Linked DNA regions of Homo sapiens. The protein of the gene in region 5 purifies or fractionates together with the protein of the main gene of each other region. This does not show direct contact. Each region holds a gene or a part of one and is shown on either strand. Other genes may lie near its edges. The genes, in order: SLX4, FPR2, VEGFD, NEK7 and PDCD2L.

The links.
Region 1: the proteins of PDCD2L (region 5) and SLX4 purify together in Homo sapiens (co-immunoprecipitation; one large-scale study listed by IntAct). This does not show direct contact.
Region 2: the proteins of PDCD2L (region 5) and FPR2 purify together in Homo sapiens (co-immunoprecipitation; one large-scale study listed by IntAct). This does not show direct contact.
Region 3: the proteins of PDCD2L (region 5) and VEGFD purify together in Homo sapiens (co-immunoprecipitation; one large-scale study listed by IntAct). This does not show direct contact.
Region 4: the proteins of PDCD2L (region 5) and NEK7 purify together in Homo sapiens (affinity purification with mass spectrometry; one large-scale study listed by BioGRID and IntAct). This does not show direct contact.

The regions. Positions count from the first base shown.
Region 1 is NC_000016.10:3,594,607-3,600,413, forward strand, and holds part of SLX4 (structure-specific endonuclease subunit SLX4), read right to left. Parts: intron 4,883-5,807; exon of another isoform or gene 3,555-4,882; coding exon of another isoform or gene 3,394-3,554; coding exon 3,191-3,393; intron 3,090-3,190; coding exon 2,773-3,089; intron 1,788-2,772; coding exon 1,547-1,787; intron 1,088-1,546; coding exon 999-1,087; intron 1-998. UniProt on the Homo sapiens protein: Regulatory subunit that interacts with and increases the activity of different structure-specific endonucleases.
Region 2 is NC_000019.10:51,766,461-51,772,193, reverse strand, and holds the end of FPR2 (N-formyl peptide receptor 2), read right to left. Parts: intron 3,550-5,733; 5' UTR 3,536-3,549; coding exon 2,480-3,535; 3' UTR 1,663-2,479; downstream 1-1,662. UniProt on the Homo sapiens protein: Low affinity receptor for N-formyl-methionyl peptides, which are powerful neutrophil chemotactic factors. Binding of FMLP to the receptor causes activation of neutrophils.
Region 3 is NC_000023.11:15,362,926-15,368,732, forward strand, and holds part of VEGFD (vascular endothelial growth factor D preproprotein), read right to left. Parts: intron 395-5,807; coding exon 184-394; intron 1-183. UniProt on the Homo sapiens protein: Growth factor active in angiogenesis, lymphangiogenesis and endothelial cell growth, stimulating their proliferation and migration and also has effects on the permeability of blood vessels.
Region 4 is NC_000001.11:198,313,006-198,318,812, forward strand, and holds part of NEK7 (serine/threonine-protein kinase Nek7), read left to right. Parts: intron 1-5,807. UniProt on the Homo sapiens protein: Protein kinase which plays an important role in mitotic cell cycle progression. Required for microtubule nucleation activity of the centrosome, robust mitotic spindle formation and cytokinesis.
Region 5 is NC_000019.10:34,409,358-34,415,164, reverse strand, and holds part of PDCD2L (programmed cell death protein 2-like), read right to left. Parts: coding exon 5,655-5,807; intron 1,429-5,654; coding exon 1,318-1,428; intron 1-1,317. UniProt on the Homo sapiens protein: Over-expression suppresses AP1, CREB, NFAT, and NF-kB transcriptional activation, and delays cell cycle progression at S phase.

The DNA.
Region 1 (5,807 bases), on a different chromosome or scaffold from region 5:
AGGAGGAGAGGAAGAGCCGTCACCTCCCCACCTCTGCTCTGCTAACTGGGCAGTGGGAAGCTCCCCGCATGGAGGTGGCGCTAGGGTGGGCCGGGAGCCAGGACCTGCATTCTCCTTTCCTCTCCAAAACGCTTCCCACGATGGCCTCAACCTCTGAGTGACCCTAAGGCCCTGAGTAGCACAGAAGAGCAAAGCACTAGCTTGTTCCTCTGGCTCTTGCCAGTGGGTTCCCTGGCCCCCGTGGAGATGCCAGACATGGGGCTAGATGTGAACTCACAGTGCTGGCAGCTCCCGCACTGAGTGGGACAGGCTGCGGGATACCTGGGCTTTGAGGAGGTGCACCCATCCCCTGTGACGGACAAGCACCCTGAGTCCAAGCAGCTCGGGGACCTGGCCAAGAGGACAGCCGGGTCCAGTCTGTGATGATGTCCCTAGGCTGGCCTTGGCATGAAGTGCTTGGTTGACACTGACATGCAAATGGGAGGAGGTCCACTCTAGGGAAAAGCCAGTTCCCACCCCGGTTCTTCCCCAGACAGCGCACTGACAGGGAGGCCAGGCCAGGCTGCTCAGCTGTGCTCTGGAGCCCAGGACCCGCACAGAGGGGAGGGAGAGCAAGCCCTTGGTGAGCTCCCAACTACTGAGGAACGAGCAGAGCGTGCCTGGATGGGGCAACCGCGCTGAGAAACTGTGGTCCCTCTACACTCCTGGGACCCAGGACAGGGCAGGCTCTGGGGCCTCAACCCCAAGGTGCCCCATGGAGTCACAGACAGAAAAGGCAGAAGTCTCGTGGCAGAGCCCCCAGAGGGGCGCTGAGGTGGCTGTGGGTCCGTGGCTCTGCTCACGGATGTCAGGATGTGGCAGCCTTCTGGAAAGCAGAGGCCTTGAGAGGCCACTGCACTTGCGTTGGGGGCCAGAGGCCAGCGGTGAGCCAACCCCACCACACACATGGCAAGTGGGATGGCCGGGACCAGAGAGCGCGGGCCAGAGCCAGTTCTTACCAAGGTGCGGCCGCCCCTGTCCGGGTGCTTGTCCTGCGATGGCACCACAAACCCAGTCAGAGGAAGGCCGCCGGGCACCACGTCCAACCCTGAGTGGAGGATTCACAGGTTAAAGGAACGTCACAGCCCAGCCACATCCACCACCAAGAAGACAGCGTTGACCACAGGCTGAGCCAGCCCCTGCGGTGCCTCGGAAGGTGCTTGCTATCCGAGGACACCTTCATGCAAAGCAAACCCGCACACCCTGTCTCACCACCACTCCACCAGGGAGGTAAGAGAAGAGCAAAACAGACAGTTCACCCAGAGGATTCACTCGCTGTGGGCAGACAGCTCTGTCTTTGGTTAAAGTGGAAGGAAAATCATGACAGAGTTGTCTACACCACATTGACCTTTGAGAAAAAATGAAAGCGCCCAGAGGCTGCGTGTTCTCCCACCAGGTCAGAGCTGCCGTCGCGGCGGCACAAGAGCCAGTCCATGGCAGCCTCAGCCGCGGGGAGGGGAGGCCCGGGAGGGCAGGGCTGGCCCTAGAGTCCCACCCAGCATCTCACCTGCAGTCCCTTCCGAGCCAGCCAGGCCCCCACTGCCGGGCCACGGGCTGGCGCTCAGTCCCTCCCTCGCCAGGTCCACGAGGTCCTGCAGGGCCTGGTGCTCCCTCTGGCTGGCCGAAGGCGACGGGCCCCTGGAGCCACAGCCTGCAGTGGGGGTGCCGTGGAGAGCGGGTGACCTTCGCTCGCTCAGCTCTGAGTGCTCAGGTGGCACCAGAGGCGGCACGGGCTCCTGCATAAGGCCCTGAAAGAAGCCAGTAAGGAGAGTGACCACGTGGTCACTGTCATTGACGCACACACTGCAGAAGCCATCACATGTGGTATGCACGGCTGGACCTAAAACTACAGAGCAGGATGTGGGCTGTGGGGACAGACTGTCCCCGGGGCTCCAGCCACAGCCTGGAGCAGTCCTGGGATGCTTTTCCCCAGCACTCATGTCAACATGCTCCTCCTCTGTCACGGCCAAGGCCAGGCCTGTGGCATCTGTTTGCACAAAGGCTTGTCAGAGGCCAGGGGGGCCCAGGCCTGCCGCCCTCCTGAAGTCCTCCAAGCTGCCTCAGGCAGCTGCGTACTGACTGTAGGGCTACCTGCCGCACGACTGTCTGGAGTGTGTGCTCCGAATGCCAGTTTCCGGGCTCCATCTGAGGCATTTTGCCAGTTGCCCTGGGACTCTGTTTTTTTTTTTTTTTTCAAGACAGAGTCTCACTTTGTTGCCCAGGCTGGAGTGTAATGGCACGGTCTCGGCTCACTGCAACTTCCGCCTCCCCGGTTCAAGCGATTCTTCTGCCTCAGTCTCCCAAGTAACTGGGATTACAGGTGTGTGCCACCATGCCTGGCTAATTTTTGTATTCTTAGTAGAGATGGGGTTTCACCATATTAGCCAGGCTGGTCTCGAACTCCTGACCTCGTGATCCGCCCACCTCAGCCTCCCAAAGTGCAGGGATTACGGGCGTGAGCCACTGCGCCCGGCCGGGACTCTGCATTTTCAACAAACTCCAGGAACACACTCTGGTGGACACCAAGGGTCCTCCCTGATCCTACCCAGAGTACCATGTAGTTGCTGGACAGAGAAGAAAGCTGCAGCCACCAAGTGCCCCTCTGGCCTCCTCCCGCCTCTGCCTTTCCTTCCTGGACTTTCCATCACCTGGCTGTGGGTACCCAGTGTTGCAGTTCTGGGATTGCCAACCTCCCCCAAAAGCCTATCCATGTGCCTGAGGGGAGGGACTCACCTGGGCAGGCCGCTGGGGCACGAGAGGAGGGACCAGCCTGGCCGTGTAGAAGTCCTCCATGGCCCAGGCCCCAGTCAGTGCGCTGCCCTCCCACAGAAAGCTCTGCTTGCGTTCAGGTGGAGGAGGACACTGGCCCGCTCTTTCCCACCCTTCCTTTAAAATCCTGCTGGCAGGAAGTGGTGGCGTGCTAGACAATTCCACTTCCTCAGAGAGGAGCAGGGCCACACGGTCCTCTATCTGTCGGCCTGTGGTTTCAGAGTCCTGGACTAACAACAATGGGGGGGATACCGGGGGTTTCTTCTTGCGACTTTTATTCTCTAGAGAGAAACAAAAGCGACACCATCAACGGTGGAGTCGGTCCACTCACCCGGGACCTGCTGATGGCCTCTCCCAGGGTCACTCTTCTGATCACACAAACCTGCTTCTGGTCTTATCCTCTCAGAAAAGGCACTTTCCAGCCTGAGCGCTGGTACAGCCGCACCCGGCTCCATCTCCGACCGGGACAGAGCCATGGCCACCAGCAGGTCCTCGGACGGTGCCTCGTCCACCTTCCGCCTCTTCCGTGGCTCCTTCTTGCTGGTGGGTCCTCTCCGTTTCAGACCTCTACTGTGATCACTGAAGCTAGAAAACAGCCAAAGAGAAAAGTTACTGGGGCTAGAGGAGTGCACGCTTCTCAGGTTGGTCACACTGGTCTGGAGAGGGCTGGGCCTGAGAGAAAAGTGACGGATGTGGACCTGCCAGGCAGATGCGTCCCCCACTTCCACTGCCTTGTGTGAACTCATTCAATTCCAGGCCAGAAGTTCAACATGGCCCAGGCACAGGAGGGTCTGGGTTCCTTCACGTGCTGCTGTCCAGCAGGCTCATGGCAGATGTACGGAGCCATCTGTGGTACCTGCACATCCTCATGTGGCCAAGCCCATCCAATGGAGTCAACAATCGATGGCTCTGAGCAGGCTCCCTGGACTCCCACCACCTTCACCCATCAATACTTCCGATGCTCCTTACACGGTCCTGGCCACACCGGCAGAAAAGGATCCCTTCCCTCCTGCAAGGGCTCCACGGCAGTGCCTCTGTCCATGGCCAGAAGGAAGGGCTTCCCAGCTTAGGCTGCCGATGGTCAACATTATACCAGCCGCCCCGGGACTCTGCACTTTCAACGGGCAGCAGCTCGTTTGGTTTGGAGGAAATGAACAGGAGTTTCCGGCTGGAGAGAACCTAGGCTGCCTGGGTGACTCCCAATAAGCTGGGCAAGAAGGAGGAGGGCAGAGGTGACAAAGGAACTTAGCACAAACCGGGCCCACCTTCCCTGCAATGCAGTCATGCCTCTGGCTTTTGCAAAAGCTCATGCTCTCCAGGGTGCCAGGGATGGCTCAAGTTCACCTTCCCAGGAACGTGGATAATCACAGCCTCCCAGAGGGAAAGGAGCTGCCTGGGCAGCCTGGGACCCTGCTTCTGTGAAGGGAACACAGACTGTGTTCCCTCCTCACTCCCCAGCAGGCCAGGTTTGGGCTGTGGGGAAAGAATATGAGGCACTCTGGCCGGGGCATGCGTTCTGATGACCACAGGCTTGGCCTTTGGGGAGGGAGGGGTTCAAAGACCCCATGAGGGCATCCAGCTCCTGTAGTTTTCTACTCTGACAACCTTCTAAACGGATCCACATACATCTAGTTTCAGTACTTGGAGGTATTCTAAAGGCAGACATACTTTATCTGAGCAGGTGCTTTTGGCGTGGTCCTGCCAAGAAAGAAACAATGGCTTAGATGACGTCTATTCTAAGGCCTCAAGGCTTGCACCCCTGCCATGCTAAATACAGATGCGCTCCTCCACCAAGAGAATCCCCTCTGCCCTCTGCCATCTCAGCCCCGAGCCAGCTCAGCTGCCCATGACCTGTGTGCAAAGCAGGGGGCGGGACAAACAGCTATCGCCTTTGGCCTTCCCTTTGCTCCTGACAGCGGTCTCAAACCTGGAGGAGTCAAAGGTCCAAGATGCCTTTGTTCACTATGAACCTGGTGTCAGCTCTAGCGTCCTCAGCAGCAGGGCAGCGTGGAGCAGGGCCAGCCCTCTGGCACTTGTGTGGCTGTGGTTTGCATGCTGAGGACTTGTTTCCTGGCTGTGAGCAAGGCAACTCATTTTAACTTTTAAGCATTAATTCATGCAAGATTTTTAAAAAATAGGGTCCTACACTTCTGTTGCACCAACTTTGTTGTTGTTTTTGTTTGTTTTATGAAGACAGGTTCTTGCCCTGTCGCCCAGGCTGGAGTGCAGTGGTGCAATCACAGCTCATTGCAACCTTGGCCTCCCAGGCTCAAGTGATCCTTCCGCCTCAGCCTCCCACGTAGCTGGGACTACAGGTGTGCAGCACCACAGCCAGCTAATTTTTTAATTTTTTGTAGTGATGGGTCTTGCTATGTAGTCCAGGCTGGCCTTGAACTCCTGGGCTCAAGTGATCCTTCCGCCCTGGCCTCCCAAAGTATTGAGATTACAGGTGTAAGCTACCGTGCCTGGCCAATCACCAAATCTGTGAACTGTGCTGAGTAATCTTATGTTAACAGTGTGAAAACTGGACTGTGCTGAGGTGGAAACCATGCTGTCCAACAACGAAATGGATGGAGTAAAGTGACTACCAAATTCTTAGATGTGGTAAAGCAGTAGTCCCCAACCTTTTTGGTACCAGGAACTGGTTTCATGGAAGACAATTTTTCCATGGGACAGGAGTAGGGGAATGGTTTCAGCATCAAAGCATTCCACCTCAGATCATCAGGCTTTAGATTTTCATAAGGAGAGCTCAACCTAGATTCCATGCATGTGCGGCTCACAACAGGGTTTGTGTTCCTGTGAGTCTAATGCCACCACTGATCTGACAGGAGGCGGAGCTCAGGCAGTAAAGCTTGCCTGCCCGCTGCTCACCTCCTGCTGTGTGGCCAGGTTCCTAACAGGCCACAGACCGGTACTGGTCCGAGGCTGGGGGGTTGGGGACCCCTGCACTAGAGGGTACCGACTGTGGGATCATGGGATTGGAAACTCAGGAAGGACCT
Region 2 (5,733 bases), about 17 Mb from region 5:
GGACTTCCAGATTCGAGCAAGTCTAGAAATGTTTATTGGTGGTGAATGTCCCATAAACACCAAGAATCCTCAGCTTCTGAAGACCCCAGTACACAAGGGTGCAATTGGAACTGAGAATCCACAATGGCAACTTCCAATGAAGAAAAGAAAAATGGGGAGGATGCAGCAGGCACTGTTCCAGTGCAATTAACCAAGGCCAGTGGGAAGGAAAGTAAGACTCCTCTGTCCTGGCAGTGGAGGAAGGCTGTTAACTAGCCAGTCTAGAAGCCGTGGTTCTCCTGTTTCAAGGTCATATGCTGTTCTTGGCTCCAGGTTTCTCCTTCTTGCGTTTTCTCTTTGTTCCTTATTTTCTATGGCCACAACTTAGTCGGGCATTAAAGGGTATACTTTTCTTAGGAACTGGAAAGCATTTATAGGAGTCAAGAATGCAAATGAACTAAGTAAACTTCTCTGTTTTGGAAATGTTGGAAATGTAAATAACTTTAGGGGAAACAGGAGGGAAAGGGAGAAGCGGTGGAGTGAGTGAGGACGCTGATAACAGGACTGCCTCATATTCGTGTAGAGTTCTGTCTTTTGCCAGTGCATCCGGAAAGTATGTTCCGCACCGAAGGACCATTTCTGAGTGGTCATTTCCTGTAAGCAAAGTAAAGGGCTGAGTACCTTTGTGGGTTGATTTATTTCAAAACAAAGGCGTGAGGCAACAGTTAGCCATGGTACTTTCCTTAAAGCAGAAGCTCAAAACCAGAAATTGATGAAAAAGTAAGCCACATGAGTATTTCTAAATATTGTGTGCTTGAGGATGGGTGTTTACTGGACATGGTCTGGTTCATGTAATAAGGGTTGGAGATAATTTTGATTTGACATTAAAACTTCTCACTTGACACCTAGGTGATACTATTGTTTATTGATTCATTTATTCAATGAGTATTTAATGAATGTCTATTACATATCAGACAGTATTTTACACATAGAGGATGGGGTTCAATCAGCAAACCATACAGACCAAAATCCCTGACTTCAGAGAGCTTACATTTTCGTTGTTTAAAAGAAACTGTATCTCCAAAGGCTGTGCTCTAGGATAATAACAACAAGAAGAACAAAAATCAGAAATTAATAAATACATAAAAGAAAGCATTTCAAGTTTCATACTTTTTTTTTTTCAGACAAAGTCTCACTCTTGTCCCCTAGGCTGGAGTGCAATGGCACAGTCTTGGCTCACTGCAACCTCCACCTCCCGGGTTCAAGCAATTCTCCTGCCTCAGCCTCCTAAGTAGCTGGGATTACAGGTGTGCACCACCATGCCCAGCTAATTTTTGTATTTTAAGTAGAGATGGGGTTTTACCATGTTGGCCAGGCTGGTCTCAAACTCCTGACCTCAGGTGATCCACCCTTCTTGGCCTCCCAAAGTGCTTGGATTACAGGCATGAGCCACCGCACCCAGCCAAGTTTCATGCTGTTTTATAACTTTTAAACAGTTATTATACTATTTTATGCCGATGAGTTTGACAGTTTGAATGAAATGGCCAAACTCCTTGAAATTCAGTTTACCAAAACTGACAGATAGGAAAAAACAAAAAACCAAAAAACAGAAGAGTCTAATCACTGTTAAAGAAAACAAACTTGTTATTAAAAATCTTCCCAGAAAGAAAACACAAGACCAAGTTGGCTTCACTGGTGAATTTTTCTGAATATTTAATAAAGATATAACACCAGAAAACAGAATCAGAGGAATTACTTCTCAATTCCTTTTCAGAGACCATTACAAGTTTCTCTTTGTTCCTTATTTTCTATGAAAACTTAGCAAGGATAGTAGAAAAAGTGAAATAACAGTATATAAACATAAACACAGAAATTCTAACCAACTCCTGTGAGATATAAATATTTAAAGTACATCAGGACTAAGTGTGGTTTATTCCAGGAATTCAAGAGTAGTTTAACATTCAGAACTTAATGAACATTATTTATAATGATTTACATAAAAGAAGAAGAATAATATGACCATCTTAATACATGTAGAAAATGCATTTGATAAAATGCAAAGTCCACTCATGATGTAAGAAAAAGAAACAGAAAACTCTTAGCAAACTAAAAATAGAAGAAAACTTCCATAATCTGATTTTTTTTAATAGCTATAAAAAACCTACAGCAAACATTTTACTTTATACTTTAAAGTCTTCCCCTTATTATGCGCTATCTCATCTAAGTCTTACAAATCCCCACTGGTCTTTCTCTTCTTGTATTTCCCAACTCCACTTACCCCAGGGTATAGGCAGAAGTCAAAAAACAAAAAATAACACTAATATTTTAGTAGCCTGACTGTCTATTTCTTAGCCCCAAATCAGGGACACAAAAGCATTTTTCCTGAATAAATACTTGAGCTGTGCATCCTTGAATGCCTCAATATGACTCAAGGGTAGATGAAGCTGGAACTGGCATTAGGGTAGGATGAACAGAACTCAAAATATCCCTGACCCCATCCTCACATTGCCTGTAACTCAGTCTCTGCAGGAGGTGAAGCAGAATTGGCAGCCGTGTCATTAGTTGGGGCTGAGTCCTCAGACAGGGCCCTCTCCAGACTGGTGGGCAGGGAGTGGATCAGTCTCTCTCGGAAGTCTTGGCCCACAAAGACGTAAAGCATGGGGTTGAGGCAGCTGTTGAAGAAGGCCAGGGAGCTCGTTGGGTTAACCAGGATGTCAATGATTTTGTACTTGCCATAGAACAACATCTCTTTGAGCCAGACGGTGCCCAGAAGGGCAACCAGTTGAAAGGGAAACCAACAGATGAAGAAAGAAGCCACCACAGCAGTGAGGACCCGTAAGGGACGGCTGGATTTAATCATGCCCTTTTTGTGGATCTTGGCTGCAATGAGCCCATAGCAGATGGCAACAATGGACATCGGCAAGCTAAAGCCAATGACAAACCGGATAATCCCTCTGGCTGTCAGCATGGTAATGGCCACCTTCAGCCTCTCCTCAGGGGTGCCACCCCAGGATGCAAAGTTGAAAGTACAGTATGTGTCCCCATTTGGAATAGTTACTGTAGTCAAAAAGAGGAAAACTGGCAAGGTAAGGACTAGAGCAAGAATCCAAGGTCCGACGATCACCTTCATGGCCAGACTCACAGTGCGGTGGTTCTGGGCCCAGACTGGATGCAGGACACAAATGCAGCGGTCCAGTGCAATGAAACCAATCAAGAAGACACTTCCAAAGAGGTTGATGTCCACCACGATGTGAATTAACTTACACAGGAACCAGCCAAAAGGCCATTTTTCTCCCATGGCCATGGAGACAATGAGGAATGGTAATGTGGCCGTGAAAGAAAAGTCAGCCAGGGCCAGGTTCAGGTAACAGATGGTGGTGACTGTGCGTGTCATCCGGAATCCAGCCACCCAGATCACAAGCCCATTGCCCAGGACCCCGAGGACAAAGGTGACCCCAAGCACCACCAATGGGAGGATCCGCAGAACAGTGTAGCCAGCAGACTCATAGGACACTTCTTCATATTCATTCAGAGGAGTGGAGAAGTTGGTTTCCATCTTGCCAGCAGCACCTGAAACATTCCAACAATGGCCATTTCTCAGCTGTGGAACCATCTTACAGCATCTGTATTTATAGCTCACATCAACTTCCACTAAAGCTCCCACTCCTACCAGGAGACCCACTCTATCTACCAAGCCTTGTTGACAACGGTGCTATAGAATTGGCATTCTCTTGGATGCTCCTTTGGGAAGGGATAGTCCTCCATATTCCCATCATTATCAATATGCATTTCGCTTATCGGGCTGATCACTTCACCAAGAGGATTACAAGGCTCATACTGAACTTATGTTGTATGGACAATGGAAAATTGAGCATAGGCAGCCTCAGCATTGTGAGGAAGGCACATGACTCAGAATCAGAAGGCTCACATCTGTGTCTCCCACCATTCAATGCAAACATGCTGGCAAGCTCTGCAATCTCTTTCAGCCCCAGGTTCTTCCAGTCTCCCAACTCCTGTCCCTCAAACTGTGAGAACCCTTGACCTATTGCTTGGCTAGTACTCAAGATAAAGTTTGAGGGTTTGGCTTGAGGTTATTGTTGAAGAGAATTTTGAGGAGTCACTGGTAACATGTAGTAGTATGTTATATCCTGAGGATTCTGCACTAGAGGAAGTCAGCAAAGAGAGTTCCATCTCTGCTTTCTACCCTCTGCTTTTCCCTGTCCCTGCTTGATGTGGAGCTCTTCTCTGTTTGGAATGCAAATAATCAGTGCCGATTTGTATAGCTTTGGTGTCTGTGGGATAAAGACTATAAGAATAATAAGTTGTATTAATACTTGTGAAGTTCTTATTAGAGACTATGCATTGTGTTAATTACTACATATGGGATCCGGTTTGGCCTATGTAATAGCTATGTAATATTCATTACTTCTAGTTTTCATTAGAATAAATGAAAGCTCAGGGCAATTGTGAAATGTGTTGAAGGTCACTTAGGTAGTAGATAATAGATTCAGGACTTCAGTTTGGCATGGTCTGACTTCTAAACCCTTACGCTTGACAGATATTGCTGGTTGCCCACCCAGCAACGGTTCCCCATTCTTCTCTGCTTGAAAAACCACAATTGTGTTTAGTTACTCACCCTGCAGAGAAGGTGTCTTTTCTCCATGTTGGGAGTAAATCCTGACTAGTCTAATTAGCACTAACCAGAATCCCTTTTACTTTGCAAGGGATTGCTTTGGTAGTGGACACGTGACTAAATTGTGGACAATAACATTGTAAGAATATGACCCTTCAGAGCTTCTCAGATCAAGTTTTTTTGTTTTTGTTTTTTTCTTTTAAGAACAAAAACCCAAAACATGTAGTCCCTGCCTCTGGTCCGGATCACATCTGTAATATTTGTATCCAGTTCAACACAAAGTCCCACGTCACCTGAGCACATTTTCTTATGCCGTGGTCTGTGGACTTTATCAGAAACATCCAGGCTGCCTGTTAAAATTGTATTCATTATCCTTAGCAAACTAATGCAGGAACAGAAAACCAAATACCACATGTTCTCATTTACAAATGGGAGGTAAATGATGAGAACACATGGACACAAAGAGGGGAACACTGGGGCCTACCGGAAGGTGGAGGGTGAGGGGAGGGACAGGATCAGGAAAAATAAGTAGTGGGTATTAGGCTTAATATCTCAGTGATGAAATAATCTGTACAAGAAAACACCAGGATACAAGTTTACCTGTATAACAAACCTGCACATATACCCCTGAACTTATAATAAAAATGAAAAACAATTATATCCATAAATCTCATTCTAGAATCTGTATGTGTAAAAGCCAGGATGATTTGCTATGGCCATGAGAATTTGAGAATCATCTCAGACTGGGCTATTCAGCATCTTTAAGAGAAATAGCAATTCCATAGCACTTGTTCACATCTAATGCTCATAATAACATTGGGAAACAGCCATCACATCTGGGGGAATTCATGGCCCGGGGACTTCTGTAGTTTTTTTCAACATCATGCCCAGCCAGTCAGTGGAGGCAGCAAGATACGGAAACCGAGATGAACAACTCCAGAGCCACTGCCTTTGCATACGGAAGTCCTGCCTTTGAAAGGGATTCCCCCAAGATTACTAGGATAGGGCTATGCCTCAGTCTGGTGATTTTTAGCCTTCTTCCTTTTCCTTATTTCCTCCTTTTCTTCCTGCTATTACCAGTGAGTTTCACTGAGGTATTCCATGGGACGTTATTTAATGTA
Region 3 (5,807 bases), on a different chromosome or scaffold from region 5:
AATATATTTCTCTGTGAAGTAAACATTAAAAAATCAAGATTCTGCACTAATACTGGAAATCAAAGACCGACTTTCATTCTCCCTCTGACACGTGTCTGCCCTACGCAGACTTTTGGAGAAAGTAAGTGTGTTTGTCACTATCTAATAAAGAGAAAGAATTTGTCTCCACATCCACACACCTACCTTTTAGTGTTTCAATGTCATAGAAAGTTGCCGCAAACCTAGTGGACCGATGGGATGCTGAGCGAGAGTCCATACTGGTAAAACTTTTGAGCCTCAGCCTGCATCTCCACAGCTTCCAGTCCTCAGAGTGAGTAATTCGAAGTAGTTCCTCCAAACTAGAAGCAGCCCTGATCTGCTGTTCAGATCGTTCCAATGTGGACTGAGATGATCGCTTAAAAAAACAAAAATACCAGTTTAAAAACAAGTTACTAAATTTTAAATTTGTCATAATAATCTTCATTTCTGACACTTAGAAGTGTAAATACATCTGTAATTAGAGATACTATTGAAACGTATGCCAGTGCCTAGGAAAAAGGATATCTTCTAGTATTTTTGGTTTACATTCTGCTCATTTTTGATTGAATCAGAGGATTTACTTATTCTTCCTGGGTTCTCAGAACACTTACAAAGAAAATTGTAGTGCATTGAATGGTGGGCCTCAAAATGATATGTCCACATCCTAACCCACAGAACCTGTGAACATTACCTTAATTTGGACAAAGGATCTGTACAGATGTAATGAAGTTAAGGATCTTAAAATGAGATCCTCCTGGATTATCTATGTGGACCCTAAATACTGTACAATGACAAGTGTCCTTATAAGAGACAGAAGAGAAGACAGGGACACAGAGGAAGGTCATTTGAAGATGGGGGCAGAGACCGGAGTGATGCAGTGACAAGCGGGGGATTGCCTAGAGCCATCAGAAGCTGGATGAAGCAAGAAAAGATTCTCTCCAAGAGTGTTTTGAGGGCGTGCAGCCTTGCTGACCCTTCCATTTTGGAATTCTGGACTCTGGAGCTGTGAGAAAATACATTTCTGTTATTTTAAGCCACCAAGTTTGTGATAATTAGTTATGGCAGCCATAGGAAACGAAAAGATGTTTATCATATTATTTTTGTGACAGTAGCTACTGACAGTTGTTTTCATCTCTGTTATTTGTTTGAGAAATTGATCCACAAAGGCCTGGGTAACCTGACTACAGTCACAAAAAAAAGATATCAAGCCCCTGATAACCTGAATTTTCTTACTTCTAACTCTCTTTGTTTTCTTTTAAAACCTACTATTTCAAAAACATGATTTTTTTCTGACAAAATACTTTTCTGGGGTTTTACGCTCTAGAAGTATAAGAGTTTAATATTCTTATGGAGCTATCAAATACTCTTCTAGAGTTTGCTTTCCATACAGTTGCATGAACTGTATTGGCGGATACAGTGCAACTGTATTGGATGGGTTTGTAAGAAAAAAAAGACTTGGTAGATAAAAGATTTTCAGTATGTAGCCTCTTGTTCAAAATTGGGGGCTTAGTTATATAAATAATGATATATGCATACAATGAATTCTATGTGATCATCAAAACAAAGGATGTAGAGGTATATTGGGACAGAACGAATTGAGATCCTTCCTGGAATGTGCTGGAGAAATGATAAGGTGATCTATCTATGGCTAGGGCCTCCGATTTTCTCTTGCTGACCCGGTAGTTACTAGATGTTTGTTTTGCTGGGTGGTTGGAATATGCAGGCTGAGGCCATTTGTAGAGCTGGGATGAGGGAGGAGGCAAAGGACCAGTGCTGAGAGAGGAGGGTGGAAGGGAAAGGTGAATGTCAGCTGCCTGCTGCAGGGCGAGGAACAGTGAAGGAAAACAAAGATGAGCAAAAGGGGCTGTTAAAAGGCTTTGCATTGGGTAGTGTGATGTACACTCTCCTCCACTGAGCCTCAAAAGCTGTAGTTAAAATCTACATCATGCATTAGCATTTTAGGAGGAGAAATTTTTTTTAGACATGCTAGTGGACACTGAGAGTTGTCCAAAAATGGGTACTCAGAAGAGCAAGTGTGGTCTAAGTCATGTGTGATTCAGCTATGATATAACCTCTTTTAAAATTACTTATGTATTTTTACTTATGCACTTATGTACATCATATATACATACTTATATGGATATATGAGGAACATCTGGAGACATATACATGAAAATGTAAACAAAGGTTATTCTTTATTTATTTTCGAGACCGAGTCTGGCTCTGTCATCCAGGCTGGAGTGCAGTGGCACCATCTCCGCTCACTGCAACCTCAGCCTCCCAGGTTCAAGCGATTCTCCTGCCTCAGCCTCCTAAGTAGCTGGGACTACAGGAGCCTGCCACCATGCCCGGCTAATTTTTGTACTTTTAGTAGAGATGGGGTTTCGCCATGTTGCGCAGGCTGGTCTTGAACTCCTGGGCTCAAGTGATCTGCTCGCCTTGGCCGCCCAAAGTGTTGTGATTACAGACATGAGCCGCTGCGCCTGGCCAACAATGGTTATTCTTTAGATCAAGAGCTGTCAAACTATGACCTCCCAGCCTAATTTAGCCTGCTGCCTGCCTGTTTTTGTAAATCAAGTTGTATTGACACACAGCCATGTCCATTCATTTACTTATTGTCTACGGCTGCTTTCATACTACAAAAGCAGAGTTGAGAATTTGAGACAGAGACCTTCATGGCAGTTTCAATCTGAGGCCACTTGTCTTTTTTATTCTCAATTCTTTAATATTCTCAGCCATTATCATTTTCATTATTCCACCTATAATATTGCCTCTACTCTCTTTTTTGAAAAATGTTGGAGGCTTTTAATCATCTTACATGTCTCTTAAATGTGCTTTTATATTTAGCTATTTTTTCCTCTTCACCTCTCTCTAATGTGTTATGGGTAAATTAATTGGTTCATCTTTCCAATCACCAACTCTCCAATTGTTGTGAGTCTAGAGTTTACTTTGTTAAGGTTTTAATTTCAATCACCGTATTTCTAATTTCAAGCATTTCTACTTCATTCTTCTTCCTATCTACTTTCTGTTACATTTCTGTATATTCTTCCTAGTTTGTTTGTTTGTTTGTTTGTTTGTTTTGAGACCCAGTCTCATTCTGTTGCCCAGGCTAGAGTGCAGTGGCGCGATCTCGGCTCACTGCAAGCTCCACCTCCCGGGTTCACGCCATTCTCCCTCCTCAGCCTCCTGAGTAGCTGGGACTACAGGCGCCCACCACCACGCCCGGCTAATTTTGTTTTTGTATTTTTATTAGAGACAGGGTTTCACCGTGTTAGCCAGGATGGTCTCGATCTCCTGACTTTGTGATCCACCCACCTCGGCCTCCCACAGTGCTGGGATTACAGGCGTGAGCCACTGCGCCCTGCCCCTAGTTTGTCATTTCAATTTTATGAATATTATTTCTTTATCTCTTTGAGGGTTGCAAATATTTTTAAGTATTTCTTCAAATTATTTTAGATTTTAACTTTATAGGTATGACATATACTGATTATTCATTTTGTTGCTGTCATTCTTAGTAATAATTATATTAACGTGATTTGGAATTTTGGTTAGTAGTTCCATTTTCATTCAGAGATTCATTTTTCTTTCTCATTATTCTTTCTCCAACATTTAGAAGTTTTATGGTTGTACCCCATAATACCCTGGGTCCTGAATCCGAATCTTGTTGAGTATTTATGATTCAGGGATCAGCTCAGCTCACGTCCTAGTTGCAAGGAAGTATCTGCTTCCTCCTTTGCCCCGTTAAGTAATTTCATAGAAGTCACAGCTCCAGGCAGCAATGAGCAGTAACTCTTCCTTCCTCTTTCATGGATCTGATGTAGTGCACTAAAAGAGCCGATTTCCAACTGAAGCTAAATTTTTGATGGCCCCTGTCTTCTAGCCCAGATCCATAAGTCCTGCAGCTTCAGCTTCATGGCTTTAGTGCCATTTCTGTAAATGATTGTCATCTGCAGATGTTTGCCATCATTCAATCAATTTTATATTCTGTGGACTAAGAACGATCTGAAAATATGAATCTACAAGGTTATCGCACTTGGGAATCCAGATGTGAGTGTGTGTCTGTGGGTGCATGTTTTTAATAAAAGCGGGAGAATTATAAGCTGGGGGAAAGAGGCAACAGACAGGAAGAAAGAAAAAGCATATGCAGGAGAGCTAAGGCAGGACCTAGAGGGGTTGTTTTGACATAAGTGCCAGAGATAAGTGGATGTAGTGTGACTAGATGAGAGGATCACTGTCAGAAACAAGAGGAAAATACAGAATGACATGGGTTTGTAGATGGCAAGACTGCCTGGGAAGCTCAGTGAGCTCATACCTGTGATTTCTCACTTTTCGATAAAGTTTGAATCAAGGCAAAATTGTGGGAGTGAGAGGAGTGGGGAGCATGAGGATCATAGATCGGGTTTGTGAAATTGGCTTGCCACAGCTTCTTCATCTAAGAAATCTGGAGATGAAACTGAACAATTGCTAATGTCTCTGGCAGCTTTGAAATTCAATGCTTCTCCATTAAGTCTTATTTGTCAATAGTCTCTCTTTTCCTGATTATTCATTCTCTTCTAGTTGGACAGTACTCCATATACAATTCAGTCTTCAAAATAAAACTTTGTGACAATGCTGCTTCCACGTGAAAATAATGAAACCAAGCAGCTTTTTAAAGATTTTAGAGTTGAAGCATATTGAAAGGATTTTTATGTATTGAGGCAAATTTCACTCAATATTATCCAAAAATACAAGGCCAGGCATGGTGGCTTACACTTGTAATCCCAGCACTTTGGGAAGCCGAGGTGGGAGGATTGCCTGAGCCCAAGAGTTCAAGATCAGACTGGAAACATGGTGAGACCCTGTCTCTACTAAAAATACAAAAATTAGCCAGACATGCTGGTGCATGCCTGTACTCCCAGCTACTCAGGAGACTGAGGTGGGAGAATCACCTGAGCCTGGGGAGGTCAAGGTTGCAGTGAGCCATGATCTCGCCACTTGCACTCCAGCCTGGGCAATGGAGCACGATCTTGAAAAAGAAAGAAAGAAAGAAAGAAAGAAAAAGAAAAAGAAAGAAAGAAAGAAAGAAAGAAAGAAAGAAAGAAAGAAAGGAAAGAAGAAAGAAAGAAAGAAGAAAGAAAGGAAAGAAAGAAAGAAAGAAAGAAAAGAAAGAAAGAAAGAAAAGAAGGAAAGAAAGAAAGGAGAGAAAGAGAAAGAAAGAAAGGAGAGAAAGAGAAAGAAAGAAAGAAAAGAAAGGAGAGAAAGAGAAAGAAAGAAAACAGGCAGATGTATGGTTTTATTATAGTTCTTACAGGATTCAATTCAATCTTAGAAATATTTTTAAACTATCCAACTGTGAGAACTCAGGAGAAAATATCAAATCTCTGGATTGAATTAAAGTAATTAAATGGCTCATACAACTTGCCTCATCATAAAAAATGCAGTGTTTACTCAAGTACTCAGAGTTATTTAAGCTTACTTTCAACCCCAGAATTTAAAACCTAGTTTGAAATAACAGAAATTGCAGACAGTCATTTTGCTATTTTAAGTGGAAGTACTAACAATTAAACTTAAGTAGAAACCTGACAAGTAATTCATCAAGGGCATACATTTTCAAAGGGTTCAAGAATGGTTGTTTGTTCCCAATCGGCTTTCTGCACTGGTTGATTTTTGTATAATGAACTTTATGTTATCCACTTGGGTAAGACAAAAATAACAATTAAAAATGTGTTTATCCCAAATACATACTTAAACCATTGATTTCAGTGGTTTTAATTACTAAACCTTTGCCAAGTAAATTGCTCCTAATTTCT
Region 4 (5,807 bases), on a different chromosome or scaffold from region 5:
GTCTCGTTGATCTGTCTAATGTTGACAGTGGGGTGTTAAAGTCTCCCATTATTAATGTGTGGGAGTCTAAGTCTCTTTGTAGGTCACTCAGGAGTTGCTTTATGAATCTGGGTGCTCCTGTATTGGGTGCATATATATTTGGAATAGTTAGCTCTTCTTGTTGAGTTGATCCCTTTACCATTATGTAATGGCCTTCTTTGTCTCTTTTGATCTTTGTTGGTTTAAAGTCTGTTTTATCAGAGACTAGGATTGCCACCCCTCCCTTTTTTTGTTTTCGATTTGCTTGGTAGATCTTCCTCCATCCTTTTATTTTGAGCCTATGTGTGTCTCTGCATGTGAGATGGGTTTCCTGAATACAGCACACTGATGGGTCTTGACTCTTTATCCAATTTGCCAGTCTGTGTCTTTTAATTGGAGCATTTAGTCCATTTACATTTAAAGTTAATATTGTTATGTGTGAATTTGATCCTGTCATTATGATGTTAGCTGGTTATTTTGCTCGTTAGTTGATGCAGTTTCTTCCTAGTCTCGATGGTCTTTACATTTTGGGATGATTTTGCAGTGGCTGGTACCGGTTGTTCCTTTCCATGTTTAGTGCTTCCTTCAGGAGCTCTTTTAGGGCAGGCCTGGTGGTGACAAAATCTCTCAGCATTTGCTTGTCTGTAAAGTATTTTATTTCTCCTTCACTTATGAAGCTTAGTTTGGCTGGATATGAAATTCTGGGTTGAAAATTCTTTTCTTTAAGAATGTTGAATATTGGCCCCACTCTCTTCTGGCTTGTAGAGTTTCTGCCTAGAGATCCGCTGTTAGTCTGATGGGCTTCCCTTTGAGGGTAACTCGACCTTTCTCTCTGGCTGCCCCTAACATTTTTTCCTTCATTTCAACTTTGGTGACAATTATGTGTCTTGGAGTTGCTCTTCTCGAGGAGTATCTTTGTGGCATTCTTTGTATTTCCTGAATCTGAATGTTGACCTGCCTTGCTAGATTGGGGAAGTTCTCCCGGATAATATCCTGCAGAGTGTTTTCCAACTTGGTTCCATTCTCCCCGTCACTTTCAGGTACACCAATCAGACGTAGATTTGGTCCTTTCACATAGTCCCATATTTCTTGGAGGCTTTGCTCGTTTCTTTTTATTCTTTTTTCTCTAAACTTCCCTTCTCGCTTCATTTCATTCATTTCATCTTCCATCGCTGATACCCTTTCTTCCAGTTGATTGCATTGGCTCCTGAGGCTTCTGCATTCTTCACGTAGTTCTCGAGCCTTGGTTTTCAGCTCCATCAGCTCCTTTAAGCACTTCTCTGTAATGGTTATTCTAGTTATACATTCTTCTAAATTTTTTTCAAAGTTTTCAACTTCTTTGCCTTTGGTTTGAATGTCCTCCCGTAGCTCGGAGTAATTTGATCGTCTGAAGTCTTCTTCTCTCAGCTTGTCAAAGTCATTGTCAGTCCAGCTTTGTTCCGTTGCTGGTGAGGAACTGCATTCCTTTGGAGGAGGAGAGGCGCTCTGCTTTTTAGAGTTTCCAGTTTTTCTGCTCTGTTTTTTCCCCATCTTTGTGGTTTTATCTACTTTTGGTCTTTGATGATGGTGATGTACAGGTGGGTTTTTGGTGTGGATGTCGTTTCTGTTTGTTAGTTTTCCTTCTAACAGACAGGACCCTCAGCTGCAAGTCTGTTTGAGTACCCGGCCGTGTGAGGTGTCAGTATGCCCCTGCAGGGGGGTGCCTCCCAGTTAGGCTGCTCAGGGGTCAGGGGTCAGAGACCCACTTGAGGAGGCAGTCTGCCCGTTCTCAGATCTCCAGCTGCCTGCTGGGAGAACCACTGCTCTCTTCAAAGCTGTCAGACAGGGACATTTAAGTCTTCAGAGGTTACTGCTGTCCTTTTGTTTGTCTGTGCCCTGCCCCCAGAGGTGGAGCCTACAGAGGCAGGCAGGTCTCCTTGAGCTGTGGTGAGCTCCACCCAGTTGGTGCTTCCCGGCTGCTTTGTTTACCTAAGCACGCCTGGGCAATGGCGGGCGCCCCTCCCCCAGCCTCGCCGCCACCTTGCAGTTTGATCTCAAGACTGCTGTGCTAGCAATCAGGGAGACTCCATGGGCGTAGGACCCTCCGAGCCAGATGCGGGATATAGTCTCCTGGTGCGCCGTTTTTTTAAGCCCGTCGGAAAAGCGCAGTATTCAGGTGGGAGTGACCTGATTTTCCAGGTGCCGTCTGTCACCCCTTTCTTTGACTAGGTAAGGGAACTCTCTGACCCCTTGCGCTTCCCGAGTGAGGCAATGCCTCGCCCTGCTTCGGCTCGCGCATGGTGCGCGCACCCACTGACCTGCGCCCACTGTCTGGCACTCCCTAGTGAGATGAACCCGGTACCTCAGATGGAAATGCAGAAATCACCCGTCTTCTGCGTCGCTTACGCTGGGAGCTGTAGACTGGAGCTGTTCCTATTCGGCCATCTTGGCTCCTCCTCCCCATCTATGGTGGGCCTTAGCTTTTCTAAGAGGTATGAGGAGCCATTGAAATGCTTAAAGTTGAAGCATCACCTGGCTAGTTAGGCAGTGCTAGAGAAATAGGAAGACAACTGAAAGCAAAGCCGTCAGCTGGAAGACTATCCAAGAGTGTGGCAGTGGAGATGGTGTGGCAGGAGCAAACAAAAGGTTTAAGGAGCCTGAGACCAATAGGACTGGTTGCTGACGGTTAGGCAGGTGGGAAGGAAGTATGATGAGATGTTTGATATGAATTTCAAATTTTTGACTTAAGAAGTTGGAGGTGCTGTTAGGAAGAGCTGGTTGGGGAGAAAAAAATACTAATATTTCAGTTTTAAACATGTTTAATGTGAATATTTACGTGCAGCTCTACTCAGAAGGCAGTTGGAAGTATGGGAACAGAGCCTGCAAAGAGGTCTAGGCTGGAGACAGATAACCTGTGTTCCTCAGCATGTTGGTGGTTATTGAAGGCATGGGAGTAAGTGCAGTTGTTGAAGATAAGAAGGAAGAGTGAAACAGGAAAAGAGTTAAGGAAAGGAAAATATTTAGGGCATACCAACATTTGGTAGATTTTTCAAAGGAAGATAAACCTCCAAAAGAAACTAGGAAGAAAACGTCAGGGAAGAGAAGGTCTAGGCCGGAATTGAATGATGTAAATCCAAAAGGATAGAGCTGACCAGGATGAAAGGGATTGGAAATGGTCTCAGTCAAATCAAACACAACCATACTGGAGGAAGGGAGGGAGAGACACAGAAGGACAGTTGTGTGTGCTTACATTTCTGATGTGACACAGCATTTTAAGAAACAGGCTGTGTCCTTGGAAGACAGAGACTAAATTGGTATGAAGGTGAAGATTACAGTCAGGTAATCAAAGAGATTTATATTGATTCACATCAAATAAATGTGAAAGTGACCCAAGATGAGGGTTGCAGTACTTGGAATGGAGAAGGATACTGTCAGCTGTGTGGGTATCGATACCTCCGTGTACGAGGTGCAACAACTCATAGTTAAACAGATTTTAGAAAAAGAGGAAAGTAATTATTTCCTCCTCTGGGCAGCCACACTTAATCTTTTACCTTTATCTCACAGATATCTCTTGAGATACCTATCACTTTGTAGTTTATAATAGAATTATTTCTGTGATTTCCTCACTTTCACATTTGTTTCTTTGTTCTGTCTATCTTCCGCTAGATTGTAGGCTGTTTAAGGGCCTGTGCTGTGTATTTTTCATTATTGCTTTATCCTTACTACCTAACAAAGTGTCTGGTACATAATAAATACTCCATTGGAAACTATTGAATGAACAATTGAATGAACGGATGAAAATGGAAGAGGGGGCAAAAAGAAAGAACAAAAGAGTCAGATGGTTAGAAAGGAAAATGAGTCATTCTCTCACTTCTCATGCTGGACAACAAGCCTTCCCTTGTGGACAGGTCCTTTGTCTTATCCGGTGCCATCAAGTATCACCAGCATAGTGTCTCTTGCAGAGTAGATCATCTAGAAATGTTGCTGGAGTGGATAAGTGGGAGCATTCCCAAAGCATATTTTAATTTCGTAGGTTTTCTTTCTTTTTATACTTTATTAATTTTTTAATGTAACAAATAATTGAGGAAAAGTTATCAACAGATTGATTCATAAATATAGTAAAGTATGCATATTCTGTATTTCACATATCTGATTTTATATGGTGATAGCCCTTTTGATTCTTCTGGAAAAGGAAACTCTTTATGACAAGATACACTTCGTATTTGGTGGAGATTGAATCAATAAGTGGGGAAGGAAAAGCAAACTCCAAGGTGCTGTGGCTCTGCCTGTCGCAAGGTCACCAATTGACCTGTCATCCCTTTGAAAGGCCATCCTTAAAGGAGCAGTTTAGAAGCATCTGCTCACTGGCACTCCCACTACCTATTTACCTTATTCAGTGTCTTTCTCCCTTTTTGTTATTCCCAATTCTTGTCTTTTTACTTTGGTGAACTAGAGAATCACTGTCTGCTTCAACTAAACGTGCATCATTATATCTCTAATCTTGGTTTTTCCTCATGCCAGGAGAACTTAAGGGCCAGTCATTCATTCTTAGTGGTTGGAAATTCTACCCTATTCTGAATTATTACACAGGAAAAGTTAAGGTTTCTGAACCAGCTTGAAGGATGTGGCAGTGTTAGGAAGTCAAAAAATTGTTTACTGCATGCATCTACTTGTATTTTAGCTAAATATAATGAACTTTTTGTACCATGGTTATCTTTTCCTGCTATTCTTTCTGCTTGCTTTCTTGTTTTTATCTCTAAAGAAAATATCTGACAGCTAGATGACCCATTAGAACACATTATCTTTTAAATTATGTGTCATTATGTAAGTGCTTTTCCCACTTTCTTCTGCATTGTGTATTACTGGATATATTTATTTTTTTTTTTTTTTTTTTTTTTGGTAACCTGGTAAAATGCCAGTCTCTTTCTGATGTAAATTTCTCTTAGATCACCATAATAAAATGCTTTGTGTATTGCTGTACCCCTTAAGGGTTTTAAATGCTGTTCTCTGCTCTTTTGGAAGGAATATAAATTAAAATCTTCAGGCTCTCCCAGTGGGTGTAACATTACTATGAAACATTGTTGAATTTCCAAGTGTAGCTAAAATTGATTCATTAAATTTCATTCTGCTAGAATCGTAAAATGTAAGAGATTAGGATGAGAACAGCCCTTATAGGTCATCCACTCCAACTTCCCTATTTAATAGATGAAGAAATGAACCTCCAGAGACAGTGACTTACCCAAGGGCACAGAGCTACAAAGTGCCTTCAACAAGACTGGTTTCCATTTCACTGTACTCCTTACCAAACTCTGACCCTTCATCTGGCAGACTCTTTGACCCACCTCCTCTTTCAGAATGACATTTCTCAGTGCCATTAGCCTTCTCCATAGCACTAGCAACATCTTCAGCCCAAGCTTTTTAATCATCACTTGTATTTTCTCTGGTTGAAAGTTATTTTATGGTAGAAATTGAGAACTATGAAGAAATTGTGCTAATTTAAAAATTTACTAAGTGCTATATCGTGGCCAGAGTTAATGCAAATTCTCAAAATGTCTAAACTGTTCCTAAAGAGACCTACAAAGCAAAAGAATATAGTTTTTCCTCTTAGTTTATTGTCTATGAAGATCATATACAATGTTATGATGACACATAGTTTCATAAACTGATGGAAATTAGAATTGACAATAAAATGCTATGTTCTTCTACCCGATGGATCGAGGACCATATAGGAGGGTAGTTTCTTAATTTATTGAAATCTGCTTTTATTCTATGATATAAATAGAATAAAATAGTAAACCTCAACTCTCTCA
Region 5 (5,807 bases):
TGGGTGGCAGGGCGAGACTCCATCCCAGAAAAATAAAAATAAATTAAAAAATAAAAATAAATATATGGGCCAAGGGTCGTGGCTGATGCCGGTAATCCCATCACTTTGGAAGGCCGTGGCAGGAGGATCACTTGAGGCCAGGAGTTTGAGAGCAGACTGGGCAACATGATCAGATCCCATCTCTACAAAATACATTTTTTAAAAATTAGCCAAACATGGTGGCACACTCCTGTAGTTCTAGCTACTTGGGAGGATCGATTGAGCCCAAGAGGTAGTTGTTACAGTGAGCAATGATCACGCCACTGCACTCCAGGGTGGACAACAGACTGAGACCCTCTCTCTAAAAAAATATTTTTTTAATAATAATAATAGTCCAGGCACAGTGGCTCATGCCTGTAATCCTAGAACAAACTCTGGGAAGCCAAGGCAGGTGGATGGCTTGAACCCAGAAGTTTGGAACCAGCCTGGCCAACATGGTGAAATACCATTTCTAAAAAAATATACAAAAATTAGTTGGGCATGGTGGTACATGCCTGTAGTCCCAGCTACTTGGGAGGCTGAAGTGGGAGGATCACTTGAGCCCAGGAGGTCAAGGTGCACTGAGCTATGATTGATCACACCACTGCACTCCAGCCTGAGCAACAGAGCAAGACCCTGCCCCCAAAAAAAAAAAAAAAAAAAAAAAAAAAAGCCAGGCATGGTGGCTCACACTTGTATCTCAGAACTTTGGGAGGCTGAGGTGGGCAGATTACGTGAGGCCAGCAGTTCGAGACCAGTCTGGCCAACATGGTGAAACCCCATCTCTACTAAAATACAAAAAAATCAGCTGGGCAGGGTGGCGGGCACCTGTAATCCCAGCTACTTGGGAGGCTGAGGCAGGAGAATGGCTTAAACCCAAGAGGTGGAGGTTGCATTGAGCCAAGATCACGCCACTACACTCCAGCCTGGGCGACAGAGCGCGACTCCCTCTCAAAGAAAAAAAAAAATTAAATAATAATAATAATAAAGGCTATGAGAACATGGACTTCATCTGTGCCGTTTCTTGCTATATCTGCAGCACCTACAAATACCAGCAACTGGCATGCAGAATAGACTTCGTAAGTATTTGTTAGACAAGTGAGTGCACTTTACCTTACTGAATCCTCCTACACATCCTATAAAGTAGGTATTAGGTCCTATAAAGCAGGTATTAGGTTCTCTCTTGGTTTGGGGAATACTGTAGGTTTTGCTTTTCTCATATTTTCCTGTGTTTTCCAAACTAATATGTATTCCTTTATAATCAAGGAAAACAATAAAAGGAACTGTGCCTTTTTTTACCTCAAAATCTGCTCCTGACAAGCAGCAATTCGCTTCATGAATTTGTAAAACGTCTGATCTCCACTTTTAATTATGGTCTTCTCATATTTTTCATCACCATCATTAGGAAGGCTAAAAACAGAAGCAGAAAACACTTTTGAATGTCTATATCCAGAAAATTACAGCATTTGCAAGACAAAACAAGATAATTTTCTTTTAAAAAATTTTATCAGGGCAGGCGCAGTGGCTCACGCCTGTAATCTCAGCACTTTGGGAGGCCGAGGCAGGCAGATCACAAGGTCAGGAGATCGAGACCATCCTGGCCAACATGGTGAAACCCCATCTCTACTAAAAAATGCAAAAAATTGGCTGGGCATGGTGGCTTGCGCCTATAGTCCCAGCTACTCAGCAGGCTGAGGCAGAGGAAATCGCTTGAACCCGGGAAGCGGAAGTTGCAGTGAGCCGAGATCGTGCCATGCCACTACACTCCAGCCTGGTGACAGAATGAGACTCCATCTCAAAAAAAAAAAAAAAAAAAAAATCAATCACGCCTTTAATCCCAGCACTTTGGGAGGCCGAGGTGAGCAGATCACCTGAGGTCAGGAGCTTGAAACCAGCCTGGCCAACATCTTGAAACCCCATCTCTAATAAAAGTACAAAAAATTAGCCAGGCGTGGTGGCGGGCGCCTGTAATCCCAGCTCCTTGGGAGGCTGAGGCAGGAGAATCACTTGAACCCAGGAGATGGAGGTTGCAGTGAGCCAAGATTGCGCTATTGCACTCCAGCCTGGGCAAGAAGAGTGAAACTCCGTCTCAAAAAAAAATTTCTCAGGCCAGTGCAGTGGGCTCACGCCTGTAATCCCAGCACTTTGGGAGGCCGAGGCAGGCGGATCACTTGAGCTCAGGAGTTCAAAACCATCCTGGGCAATCTGGCAGAACCTTGTCTCTACAAAAAAATACAAAAATTAGCTGGGCATGGTGGCATGCACCTGTGGTCCCGGCTATTCCAGAGGCAAGGCTGTGGTGAGCCGTGAGCACACCATTGCACTACAGCCTGGATAACAGTGTGAGACCCTGTCTCAAAAAGAAAAAAAAAAAAAAACTGTCAAAGTTAAAAAACTGTAAAACTGTCAAGTAATTTTTTTTTTTTTTTGAGAGGGAGTCTCCCTCTGTCACCCAGGCTGGAGTGCAATGGTGCAATCTTGGCTCACTGCAACCTCCACCTCCTGGGTTCAAGCAATTCTCCTGCCTCAGCCTCCTGAGTAGCTGGGATTGCAAGTGTGCGCCAACACGTCCAGCTAATTTTTGTATTTTTAGTAAAGACAAGGTTTCACCACGTCGGCCAGGCTGGTCTCCAACTCCTGACCTCAAGTGATCCATCTCGGCCTCCCAAAGTGCTGGAATTATAGGAGTGAGCCACCGCACTCAGCCAAAAACTGTCAAGTAAATATTTTTGATATTTAAATTGTGTACATGTAGCTCTGCAGTTCCCTGCCCAACCCTTCTCCCAAGCCATTTTCAACTCTTGAGTAATTATTTACAATTTAAAAAGTCGCAGGGCACAGTGGCTCACACCTGTAATCTCAACACTTTGGAAGGCCGAGGCAGGTGGATCACGAGGTCAAAAGATCGAGACCATCCTGGCCAACATGGTGAAACCCTGTCTCTACTAAAAATACAAAAATTAGCTGGGCATGGTGGTATGCACTTGTAATCCTAGCTATTCAGGAGGCTAAGGGAGGAGAATTGCTTAAACCTGGGAGGTGGAGGTTGCAATGAGCTGAGATTGAGCCACTGTACTCCAGCCTGGCAACAGAGCGAGATTCTGTCTCAAATATATATATTTTCATATATATTTTTTAATATATATATTTTATTATTTATTTTATATATATATATATATATATGTATTTTTCATCTGGGTGCGGTGGCTCACGCCTGCAATCCCAGCACTTTGGGAGGCCAAGGAGAGTGGGTCACTTGAGGTTAGGAGTTTGAGACCAGCCTGGCCAACATGGTGAAGCCCCATCTCTACTAAAAATACAAAAATTAACCGGGTGTGGTGGCGGGTACCTGTAATCCCAGCTACTTGGGAGGCTGAGGCAGGAGGATCATTTGAAACTGGGAGCTGGAGGTTGCAGTGAGCCATTATCACACCGCTGTACTCCAGCCTGGGTGACAAAGTGAGACTCTGTCTCAAAAAAACCAAAAATTTTTTTAATTAGCTGAGTTTGGTGGCACACACCTGTAGTCCCAGCTATGGGGAAAGCTGAGGCCAGAGGATCCCCTGAGGCCAGGAGTTTGAGGCTGCAGTAAACCATGAGCAGGCTGGGCGTGGTGGCTAATACCTGTAATCCCGGCACTTTGGGAGGTCGAGGTGGGCGGATCACGTGGGGCCAGAACTCCAAGAAGAGCCCGGCCAGTATGGCAAAAGCCCATCTCTACTAAAAAGAAAATACAAAAATTAGCTGGGTGAAGTGGCGCACGCCTATGGTCCCAGCTACTCGGGAGGCTGAGACATGAGAGCTGCTTAAGCCGGCGAGGGAGAGGTTGCAGTGAGCCGAGAACGTGCCACTGCACTCCAACCTGGGCAACAGAGCAAGACTGTCTCAAAAAAAAAAAAAAAAGGCCATAACCACACCACACCACTGCAGTTCAGCCTGGGAAACAAAGCAAGATCCCATCTCTAAAAAAAAAAAAAAAAAAAAGAAGAATACTCTAGTCTGAAGAAACCCACCAAAAATAAGCAAATACATAAAAACTTAAGAAATTAAAAAATAAAAAATCCTGCCGGGCGCGGTGGCTCACACCTGTAATCCCGGCACTTTGGGAGGCCAAGGCAGGTGGATCACGAGGTCAAGAGATTGAGACTATCCTGGTCAACATGGTGAAACCCCGTCTCTACTAATAATACAAAAATTAGCTGGGTGTGGTGGCGCGCACCTGTAGTCCCAGCTACTTGGGAGGCTGAGGCAAGAAAATTGCTTGAACCCAGGAAGGGGAGGTTGCAGTGAGCCGAGATCGCACCACTGCACTCCAGCCTGGCAAGAGAGCCCATATCACACACACACAAAAATAAATAAATAAATAAATAAATAAATAAATAAAAAATAAAAAGTCCTTATAACCATCAATTCTATTAAGGATTATTTTCAAACACCAACATGTCTTCATGCATTCCCCTTCATCATTATTCTGAAAAAGCCTACAAATGAAACAGTTCTGGTAAAGAACCAGGCCATTTCTCCAAATATTCTATTGTAATTTTTTTATTCTAATAGTAAAAAATGCTGGGTGCAGTGGCTAAAACAAATTTTTAGGCCAGGCACAATGGCTCACGCCTGTAATCCCAGCACTTTGGGAGGCTGAGGTGGGTGGATCACCTGAGGTCAGGAGTTCGAGACCAGCCTGACCAACATAGTGAAACCCCATCTCTACTAAAAATACAAAAATTAGCTGGGCATGGTGGCACATGGCTATAATCCCAGCTACTTGGGAGGCTGAGGTAGGAGAACTGCTTAAACCTGAGAGGTGGAGGTTGCAGTGAGCCGAGATCGTGCCATTGCACTCCAGCCTGGGTAACAACAGCGAAACTCAAAAAATTTTAATTGGTCAGACATGGTGGTGTGCACCTGTACTCCCAGCTACTTGGGAAACTAAGATAGATTGCCTGAGCCCAGGAGTTCAAGGCTGCATGAGCTTTGATCACACCAATTCACTCCAGCGTGGGTGACAGAGTGAGACCCTGTCTCTCTCAGTCAATCAATAAGCAAAAATGATCATTCTTACCTCTTTAGAGAGCTTTGGTTTATAAAGCCTTTCAAGATCTACCCTCTCGCTTAACTCTCAAAAAATCATGGGATGAAACAGAGAACAGAGATATCACCATCACTCTCATTTTACAGAATTGAGGATCTGAAAGCATCTCTGAGGTCCTGGGCCAGTTCTGGAGCCACAGCCAAGAGTCAATAAACAAATGGCGTTTTTCTTTTCCTTTTTCCATTTTTTCACCCCAATCTTATTATCCCAGATCAAATGGTAGTTTTCTAACTTGCCTGTCTCTGCTATAAAGACATATTAGAAATATAAAAGAAAATTTAAGAGTCAGTGAACGCGTCTTCTATAAATACTTGCCATCTCTAACTTCTGTTTGTTCATCTTCACTTTCTTAACGGCAATTATAAATAGAGCAGGGTTTTCAAGCTAACTCAAGTTGGCTGATAAGGAAGTGAAGCAAAAAGGTCCTACATACAAGTTCTGCCTGAAAGTTTCCCCAGGTCCTGTGGTGAAACTGAAGGGTAACTCTTGTGGCTGCTTCCCAATCCAGTCACCTCTCAACCTCAGCAGCACACATCCTCACCTTTGGGAAAGCAACTGATCCATGGCAATGCCTTCTCTCTGCTGATAGTCCCTCAGAAGGCTGTGGGCATGATCCAGGTTGACAAAGTCCCTGTAATCATCCTCATCTGCAACACAGATGTAGTAGGGCAGGAAGAGCGGCAGCCCAGGAGGC